2 separate regions of the Homo sapiens genome follow, and region 1 is linked to region 2. A link means that fine-mapping ties the variant in region 2 to the expression of a gene that starts in the linked region. Tissue or cell type: whole blood. Region 2 holds a variant in brackets; the other region holds the start of a gene. All regions are shown on one strand. Distances are between the middles of the regions.

The links. PIP is the estimated chance that this variant, and not a neighbour inherited with it, causes the effect. A credible set is the group of variants that fine-mapping cannot tell apart.
Region 1: C22orf39 starts here. The variant in region 2 is the best candidate, but not a certain one, in a credible set for the expression of C22orf39 in whole blood (INTERVAL, PIP 0.71).

The regions. Positions count from the first base shown.
Region 1 is chr22:19,445,312-19,450,839 of GRCh38, forward strand. C22orf39 (chromosome 22 open reading frame 39) reads right to left here and starts at 2,400. Exons shown (of 3, transcript NM_173793.5): 1 at 2,354-2,400; 2 at 2,067-2,234. The coding sequence starts at 2,377. It overlaps UFD1 (ubiquitin recognition factor in ER associated degradation 1), which reads right to left. Exons shown (of 12, transcript NM_005659.7): 12 at 4,600-5,433. The coding sequence ends at 5,359. It overlaps UFD1-AS1 (UFD1 antisense RNA 1), which reads left to right and starts at 2,123. Exons shown (of 2, transcript NR_186687.1): 1 at 2,123-3,014. RefSeq lists an enhancer at 1,596-2,498 and a silencer at 1,946-2,345.
Region 2 is chr22:19,421,942-19,426,941 of GRCh38, forward strand. The region is part of intron 1 of HIRA (histone cell cycle regulator); the gene reads right to left. Among named protein-coding and RNA genes, the nearest start is that of HIRA, 7.3 kb to the right of the region's middle. The variant T/C (reference allele first, on the strand shown) is at 2,907.

The DNA of each region.
Region 1 (5,528 bases), 24 kb after region 2:
CATACCCAGGGAGATGACCGACCATTCTTTTCAAAGGCTATCTGGTATTTCACTTTGTGGAAAAAGCTATTTGGTCAAATGTCTATTAGTGAAATTTAGGTTGTTTTCAGCTTTTGCAGTATCAAAAACATAATTAGCATTCTAACTTTTAACTGTACACTGTTATCCAATTACTTCCCTGGGATAAAGTTCCAGAAGTAAAACTTAAGGTCAAAAGGTATGTATCTGACATTTACATAATCAGAACACCTGACACCCCCACCAACACTGCACAACTACCCAGAATTCTTCAAACCTCTATCAACACCACTTTCTGCTGTTACTGTCATTTAGACTTATATACCTGACACCTGGCCATTTGATTTTTTCTTTTTTTTTCTTGAGAGGGAGTCTTACTCTGTTGCCCAGGCTGGAGTGCAGTGACACGATCTCGGCTCATTGCAACCTCCGCCTCCCAGGTTCAAACAATTCTCCTATCTCAGCCTCCCGAGTAGCTGAGATTACAGGTGTTTGCCACCATGCGTGGCTAATTTTCGTATTTTTAGTAGAGATGGGGTTTCGCCATGTTGCCAGGCTGGTCTCAAACTCCTGACCTCAGGTGATCTGCCCACCTCGGCCTCCCAAAGTGCTAGGATTACAGGCATGAGCCACCATGCCCAGGCTTTTCTCCTTTTTTATTATTTTTATAAAGATGGAGTCTCACCATGTTGCCCATGGCTGGTCTCAAGCTCCTGGGCTCAAGCGATCCCCTTGCCTCGGCCTCCCAAAGTGCCGAGATTACAGGTGCCCACCACCATGCCCAGCTGGCTTTCTTTTTTAATGAATTGCTTCTTTGTGTCCTTTGGCCATTTTTCCATTCTGAAATAATCCCTATATTTCTTATTGATATATATATAACAGCTCTTTATACACACACACGCACATATATATACATTAAAGTTATCAATCTCTTGCTATATAAGCTGTCAGCTTTCTTACTTTTTTTGACTTTCACATATTATGGAATAGTCATCATTTTCTTTTATACAGCAGTCTGGTTTCCACATCAGTTCATCTCTTTCAGATCACTGTATACACTTAATAATGTTGAAGTGTTGATCAGTCCCATTGATTCTCATTCCTTGGCACTCCCCATGAGCCTCGCACCTTTCGGCTGGCTTCTCTCCATCTCCTCTCCCACAAGGGGTCCACCGTAGCACTGTATTCTACACTACAGTGTGGGTGCCAGGAGGGCAGAGACTCTTCTTATCACTCGTGCATCCCCAAGAGCACCCAATGTGGTACATATTTGCTGGACGAAAAAACAACTAGAACCACCTCCTTACCGGTCTCTCTGCTCCTGTAATATATTCTCTACACCCTAGCAAACAGATTGAACTTCTTTTACCCTCTCTCTTTTTTTTCCCCCCTGAGACAGGTCTCCCTCTGTTATCCAGGCTGGTGTGCAGTGGTGTGACCATAGCTCACTGCAGCTTTGAACTCCTGGGCTTAGGCGATCCTCCCGCCTCACCCTCCCAAGTAGCTGGGACCACAGGTGCACGCCACCACACTTTGCTAACAGACTGATCTTTTAAAGATATAAATCGAATTATGCCTCCCAGCACACTTTAGACTAAACTCTAAACTCCGTATCAAAAGGCCCGCCAGGTCCCTGGTATACCGCTCTCCAACCATCCACCTACCCTCTGCTTCAGGAACCCAGGCCTTATCTGTTTCTCAGCGGTGTCTACCGGGGCTGGATGAAGGCTGGCTCCTGGTCACTCAGGACTCAGCAACATCACCTCCTGCGTAGGCCAGCTGATGACCCTAACACCGGACGGCTGCCCTCTTCCCTCTCTAAACCACTCTACACCCCCTCCTCGCTGGTCTCCTCCTTTGTCTTTCACGCCCTCTGAAAGTCCTGTTGATATGCTAATTTACACAATCTCTCAAAAGAAAGGAAGCGTGAGGAGGATAGGGACCCCGTCAGTCCCCGGCTAGGTCGCGGGGCATGGGGCGTGGAGGGGTGGGGAAAGCTGGGCCCCGCAAGGCGCTCCGAAGCGCCGCCCCGCTCCCTCCCGGCGCACCTGGGCCTCGGCGTTCCGGCGCTCCTCCCAGTCGCGGCAGCTGGCCAGGTCGCGCTGCCACTGTTCGCAGGCCGGCCGCTCGCCGTGGACGTAGTAGTGGTGTAGGAAGTGCCTGGCGCTGCGGCAGAGCTTCCACTCGGCGCGGTAGGCCTCGCAGGGGCGCGGCGGCTGCGGCGAGAGGCGGCGCCTGAGCGGGGCCCGGCGGCCGCGCCCTACGCCCCGAGCCAGTCCCGTTCCCTCCCTCCGGAAGACCCCGGTGGTTCCCGGCTCCGACCCAGCACACTCACCTGCCAGCCGCTGCCGTCCGCCATGTCTGGGCGACCGGCGCGCCAAGCCCGCCCCTCAGTCCGCCAGCCAATGAAAAATGAAGAAAACGGCACCTCGTGATCGACTGACAGAAGAACTAATGAGCACCGACACATTCAATCACGTCTTCGCCCCCTTCTTCGAGAAGCGCCGACAAACAGGACGAGCAACCAATAGCAACCGAGGGCGGCTGCGGCGCGCGCGGAGGGCCGGGGTCGCAGGGTAAATCCGGGGCGAGACCTGGCGCGAAGCCTACGCGACCACCGCGACGACAGCGCCATTCACCCCGGGCCAGGCGGGCATCCTGGGCCGCGCAGCTACCTTACGTCAGCCGCCTCTCAAATCACACGGCTCTGGCCAGTTCTTTTCAGCAGCTTTATGAGATTTTCTCAAATCTCAACAATCCGGTATATTTTCAAAAGTACATACTGAGCATCAAGGTGGTGCAGCGAACCTCCCAGATCTGCAGCTCCAGCAGTCTTGCTTGAGCGTCCACTCAGGATGGAGGTGAACTCGCAAAGTAACTGAGATTGGTTGGGCATGACATATGGTGGATCTAGGGTTGAATGACCTCCCCAGGGAACGCAGGCTTGAAGTGGAGGCTGAGAATGCAATCCGAGTACAGCCATAGGCCGGTCAAAGGTATGGAGGCGGTGTGTAGCAGGGGTGAGCGGGGTAGGAGTGGCTTGGATGTCTGTAGTTCTATTCTAAGGGTGCGGGAGACATGTAACATTTACCTTATTCATTTTTCGAGACAGGGTCTTGCTGTGTCACCCAGGCTTAGTGCAGTGGCGTGGCGTGTTCATGGCTTACTGCAACCTCAAACTCCTGGACTCCGAACAGCTGGGACCAAAAGCATGCACAGCCTCACCAGGCTAATTTTTAATTTTTTTTTTTTTTTTTTGTAAAGATGGGGTCTTGCTAAGTTACCCAGGCTAGTTTGGCCTCAAGCGACCCTCTCACTTTGGCCTCCCAAAGTGCTAGGATTATAGGCGGAGCGCCAGTGCCTGGCTGGGACGTTTATAAAAAGGAGCAATGCACAAGAGGCAACAAAGGCAAGTAAAGAGGAGGCTGGTGGGCTTGCAGAAACGCCCTGCAGTACCTATGCTGCGGTTCTCCCACTTCACTGATAACAAATCCTCAGTATCCACTGATACAAATCCTGGGACTGCTGGGCCAGTCCCAGGAATGACACTGGGACAGACTCCCTGGAGGTGGATCAGAAAGCTGCAGTTTTACCAGGGGTCCTGCTGTTGAGGCAGCCGGCTCAAGGACCAAGCCCAAATAAGACACTGAGAGGAAGGCTGCAGGCCAGGGTGCAGGAGTAATGACCAGGATCAGTGCTCCAACTGGCCCCACTGTGTCATTAAAAGGCTCTGCAATGGAATCCATCCTGGTCCAGGCAGGGGAGTGTGCCTCCAGCAAAGGACCAGGCGTTTCACTGCATACACAGCAGGTGTTGCTTAGTGAAGACAAAAACCCAGAGCCAGAGGTACTGTAACATTCTTCATTATGCATAAAGTGACAGTCTGTTAGCTGATGTGATCCTGCAAATGAAGGCTGTCTACCCACCAAGGGTTTCTCCCTCTGCTAGTAAAACTGAGACTTTGTCAGTGGAGGCTCAGGTAAGTCCCCACAGTGCTCATGCCTTCCAAAACCACGCCCATTTCCAGTGATGATGGTTTGTGCCACAGGCCAAGTACTGAACATCATGACACTCATAGACACTCTTCACTGAAGACGTGGATAGACCCTGGGGCCACCATTCTCTCCTCTCTGGAGTGTTGGAGGGGCCCTGACCAGGGCAGGACCCCCATGTCTGGAAGCAGGGTTAGCCCTGGCTCATGGGGGACCCTGCTGGGCTTAGCCATTGCCACCTAGGGATCAGGCAGCCTTGTTTCTTCCTACTTTCTCCAGGAGAAGCCCCAGAGGGACACTTTTCTAATGGTGAGATGGAACACGGAGCACCTGCCAACAGGCCTTCAGTTATGGTCAGAGGCCCAACCACCAGTCTGTGTTAGTACCTAATCAAACATTTAGATTTAGGCTTTAGTTATTGCCTGTTTTTACTTGAAATTCTTGGCTTAGAATTATTCCCAATGGGGCCAGGCACAGTGGCTCATGGGAACAAATTTAAAATAATCAGATTAGCATGTCAAAAGATCTCACGTTATAGAAAGTGAAGATCTAAGACCAAATAAATACTGATAAAAAATACAGGCCAGCAGAAGCTTGGATGATTTAATAAATTAAAATTGGGAGTTGGGGAGTAGGGAAGAAGGAGAGGAACATCTCTTTAGCATTTGTTCATTCTAACATTCACATGTTTGCTTCTCCATGGAGTTGTTTCACTATGAACAGGTTCACTAAGGAGCCAGTTATGTCCATATGAAATGAGAATAAAAGTGCAAACTCATTCAGATCAGGTTCTTCTGAGTGGTGTTTTTGAAAAAAATATGTAAAATAAAAATAGAAACATTCTTTGTCAAATACTTAAATTGCAGCCACAGTAGTGGGACAGCCACTACTTATAGAACACATGTCTATTTAAAGCCTTTTTTTAGGCCAAAGACTGACACCTATGCAATTGATGTAGGAAAAGAAAGGATAAATGAAGAAAAAGAAAGAACACTTCATGTTAGACAATTTAGTCACCTTCATAGGTTTTGACAGAATTAGGGATGCAGAATTGCTCCTGCTGAGGCAGTGGGAGCTCCCCTCAAGCTGAAAGCGTGAAGAGGTGAGGAGGCAGCTATCTACAGGCCCTCAGGGACAGCTCTTTGTCTTTCCCCAAATCAAGCATACAACTACAAAGTCCTGCTGCTCCACTTCCAAGTCAAACTTAATAATTCTTAGGTAACTCTAAATAAATCTTAAGTAACAGAGTATTCTCTGATGAGGCTCGTCCCTGTCAGTGCCAGTAACTAAAAGCCAAGATGTTGCAAATGATTCTTTTATTATTTTCCAATCAGCCAACAGTCCTCACTTAGGGCTTTCTTCCCTTTTTACGCAATGACTGTCCTTCTCCAGAGAAAGCGACGAATCTGCCTCCAGCTTCATCCTAGGTTTGAAGAGAAGATACTATTTTCAGAAACTCCCTGGAGGTTTACAATAAATGCCTTACTCTATGGACTCACGTACCATCCACATTACTCA
Region 2 (5,000 bases):
GATTACAGGTGTGAGCCACCATGCCCGGCCTGTTCTATCTTATCTCATACCCCATATTTGACCCTACCTTCCCAACATACCCATAACCCAAACTTTCAGGAGAGATGCAAATGTTCCTTAACTTTATCAGGGAACAGGTTACAAAGTACATTAACTTGTCAAAAGTCAACACATTATACATTTAAGGTCTGGACATTTTATTTATACCTGAAAAGAATGTGTTTATATATACACACACACACACACACACACATACACATATATATATATACATATATATATTACATATACATATAAACACATATATACATGTAATGTATTACATAAACACACACACACACAGAGTCTCCCCCACCAGCTCCAACCATTTCTTGCCATCACAGCCATCACCATCCTGATCCAGACCATCTCTTGCTTGGATTACTACCAGTAGTTGGCATTATAACTGGTCTCCTGGCTCCTCCCTCCCTCTGGTCCCCCACAACCAATCTAGTCTCCACGTAGCAGTCAGAAAGATCTCTAAAACTCACGTCAGATCACAGTAGTCCTCTGCTCCCCTTGCAGTGAGAATCAAGGCCTTCTAGTAGCCTACTAGGCTCTCCCAATCAGTCTGCTATTCACTCTCTGGCCTCCTCTCTCACAGCCCTTGCCTTGCTCCAACCACAATGACATCTGTGCTACTGCTCAAACCCTCCAGGCAAGTTCCAGCTCTTCTTTCTGCCTGGAATGCTCTTCCCTCAGATGGCACCTTCCTCATCTCCATGAGGCCTGCAGCGAATGCTGTGGTATCATGCCCAGGTCCCTACCCTCCAGGGACTAAAGCACACTCCCATAGCTATCTGTGGAGTGTTGGCAGCCCCAACAGCTCCCTGTAGTCTTCCTCCAGGTCAGACCTGCCCTCAGTGGAAGCACTCTTTTGGCAGGGTCAGGTCTCCTTTCCAAAAGAGCCTATATCCAGGCTGTGGACACGGGAGTAAAGGGCCCTGGTCTCCCACCCCAATCCACGACAATTCTGAAGGGCCTCCCCAGCTACAGAACTCCCAGCAGGGCTGGCTGCGGCTTTCTCTGTGCTTACATCATAGCTTGCCTTCTCCCTCTGTCTGGTGCTGCTTCCTTCACTCCTTCAATGGTGTGGATCCCGAGAGCCCTCCCCAATAATCCTGCATGCAAAAATCTGCAGCTCAGAATCTGACTCCTGCAACAAGGCCTTTGCTCAAATGTTACCTTTTCACTCAGGCTTTGCCAAAGCGTCCCACTTAAACCCGTCTATCCCCCGCCTCTGCCTCAGCATTCCTCATCTCTAAGTCTGCTGTTTCTCCAATTCACAGGATCTTGTTTGTGATTCCGCTATGTGTCTCACCAGGAAGCTCCCCTCCCACATCTCCTCTTTTCCACTTACACAGGAAACCCCCAGCAGATCCCATCCCAGTCTCACTGGCCAGGATGCATAACAGGCTGCTCCTCAAGAGCCTGGCATGCTGCTTGGTTCACTGCTGTTTTAAGAGCTGAAAACATACACACACTGACTCACACACATGCATACACACACACACACACACACACACACACACACACACACACACATATTTTCAGCTCTTAAAACAGCAGTGAATTTATCAACTGTTTTTTCCATGTGAGACCTTCTGTTAGAGGATGCAGCAGACCTGGAGTCTGCTCCAACGTAGGTCTATCCCTGGACCTCAAATAAGGCCTGCTGTCCCTTCTGTCTGGTCTTCACCACAGTGGCTTTTGCCAGGGTAGCCTCCCAGGGAATTGGCCTACCCTAGGTTTGTTAATGCATCGAGGCAGACAATGCTTTTAGGAGCAACAAATGTTAATCTAAATGGGTTTTCTTTTTGCCAGGAGTGTTTTAAAACCATTTGCTATCTGTTTCATCCACTTCCTTTCCTAAAATGGAAGGCTCTAGAAGACAGAATCATGTAAATGAACTCCTTGGGTAAGGCTTGGGCAGAATGTTTCCCCTCATCATTGGAATTGCCAGCAGATTCCACTAGAAAGAGCCAGCCAGGATGAACAAGAAGTTTATTTGCAGTACATCAACTCTACCAGCCAAGGACAACAGACACTGTTAGCTGCCCATCCATCAGCCACTTTCCATCACCAACTTCCAGCACTCAGCACTCCTTCAACATTTACTGAGTGACTACTATGGTGTGTACCAAGTACCATTCCTGGCCCTGGGAAAAGGGCATGAGCAAAGACAAAGTCTGTTTTCCAGGAGCATATGCTCCCCCAGGGAGGTGTCTAATAGAACTCCAGTTTTATTCAGATATCCACTCTGCCCGTTATGTAAGCCAGTAGGCAACGATGATTGATGCAAGAGAGGGCACATGACCTAGTTGGACCAATCAGCCAATGGGGAAGACCCAAAGTCCAAGGCTGGGGCACAGACCTCTCCCTTCTGCTTCTCACTGAAAACATTCTCGATACCCCACAACCAGAGAACTCTTGAAAATCAAATGCCAGAAAAGGCTCACCAAGCACATTTCAAGAGAAACCTACCAGGTTAGAAGCCCCAAGGCACTCAGAATGGCTACAGAAGCAGTCAGAGGACAAGCTCCAGGGACCAGACTCCTGGTCCCATGCTGTACCACGTGGTTTCTGAAAGCTGTCCTTCTGAGGAGGAAATGGGCCTGAAGCTCTCCAGGACGGAGTGGCCAGCCTCAGCACAAAGACCAGTGCTTAGCAAATTAGAAAGAGTAAGTCTGGGCTTGGGCTGGAGTCTAAGTGTGACTCTCAACACATCTCCATCACATCTAGTGGAATCTTGGTGCCAGGGGGTCACCTCATCTCACTCAGCCTAAGTTTCCATCTGTGAACTGTAATGCTGCAAGTCATAGAGAATTTCGAGGGTAATCTTCTATCGTATATAACAAGTCCTGAGA[T/C]AGGTCAGCTTCAGGGTGCATTAATTTAGCAACTTAAAGAGACGTGTCCCTCTGTCTTCCTCTCCTGTCATCAGTGTCGGCCCTGTTCCAAGCTGGCTTTTACACGCAGACCTAGTAAAGTCCAGCAGAAGAGACTAGCCTGTCAAGCATCTCCTCTTATTTAATTCCCTAGGAGGTCCCAGCAGACGTCCCCTCCTAGTCTCAAGGGCCAAAATGGCATCACATGGCTGTTCCTCAACAAATCCTTGGCATTTACCCACACATCAGCTTAGGGCTATCAGCAGGTTGGCCTGCAGAAGGCAGACCAAAAAAATTGGGGTTCTGCTAACAAGGAACAAGGCAGGCAACCCTACAATATTTGCAACACTCCCTTTGTGCTATTTGACAATATGCACAATGTTCACAATCCCACTCACTTCTAGGTGTTGTTGCTGACTCTGGCAGGATGATAAAATGTGCTTTGCATAAATTTTTGGTCCCCAGGGCTCATTCCATACCTCTGGTTCATGTGCTAGACACTTCTGCAGTCCATAGGCAAACACCCCGGATGAACAGAACATGCTAGCAACCTCTGGGGAAAGGGAGGGGTCAAGCCAGACACAGAGCATCCTCTTCCTGGTCACCGACAGGACCCAAGATCAGCACAGTGGAAGCAGGTCTCCTACTTGGCTTCAGTGGTCAAGGCCAGACGCTCCTCAGAAGTCCCTCCCAGCTGTGTAACTATGATTCTGCTCATAAAGTGAAAATAGTTTTCAACCACTTCTTAGAGTAAAACAAATGTTTAAGAAAATCCCATTTCCTGGCCTTCATCCATATTCTTTCTGCAGCATATTAAAGAAATAAATTCAGAGAGAGGCTGGGAGCGGTGGCTCACACCTGTAATACCAGCACTTTGGGAGGCCGAGGCGGGTGGATCACCTGAGGTCAGGAGTTCGAGAGCAGCCAGGCCAACGTGGCGAAAATGTGTATTAAAAATACAAAAACACTAAATACCGAATACTAAAAATACAAAAATTAGCCAGGCGTGGTGGCATGTGCCTGTAATCCCAGCTACTCGGGAGGCTGAGGTAGGAGAATCACTTGAACCCGGGAGGTGGAGGTTGCAGTGAGCTGAGACCATGCCACTGCACTCCAGCCTGGCCTGGGTAACAGAGCGAGACTCTGTCTCAAAATAAATAAAGAAAATATATAAGTAAATAAATACATTCAGAGTGGCCCAAATCTACAGTCACCTGCCTACATGGCCAAGTCCCATTAATTCTACCTCTACCCTGTCTTTAGTGCCTCTCTATTTCTCACCTCCATCACCTGTGATCTCCCTGTCTCCCTGAGCATCTCACCAAGACTAGAAATTCCTAACTCCTCTAGGGCCTGCCTAAGACACAGGTTGGGTGTTTCATCCAGCTTCCTCAGAAGCCTCAATGTTCTCCTCTCTCCCCTAACCCCAAGAAGGAAGTTCAAGCTGCTGGCAAGGCTCTGCCTCCCAGCCCCATTCTCCCTCTTGCCCTGTTTAGCCTCCCTCCTAACATGTTCTATGTCTTTCCCTAAATGCTTTCACCCTCTGGGCCTTTTCTCCTGATGGTCTCATGTGCTGTAGCGCCTTCTCTGCCATCACAATTCTAGTCACGTCAAGGTTCAGTCCAAGGACACATCCACAAACCCGACTCTGCTGGTGAAGTGCCCTTCCTCCTTGGGCTATCACGCTTATTCCTCTAGCTCCTGTTTCCCCTGCCCTGCATTCTAGAATACGGTTTGTATGTCAATCTCTCTCATCTATCTTCCACACAGCTTTCTGTTCAGAGAGAGAGCCTTATTTACCTCTGGTCCCCACAGAACTCTTACCAGAAAGGTTCAATGTTTGTTGCATAAATCAGTGAAAAATCCACAGCAAAATCTCACCCAGTTTTCTTCTGACTCTTCAGATGTACTCTGGTTATTTTCCTAAATCAACCTACTGTCTTCAGGCATAAGTCAGGAGAGAAATTGCTGAGAGAATTTGCATTTTCTGAGCTACCACATGGAGCAGGTGAGGCAAGAATTACTGACTTCATGAACAGATTAGGAAGAGATGGAAAAACTTTTTATGTCACATAT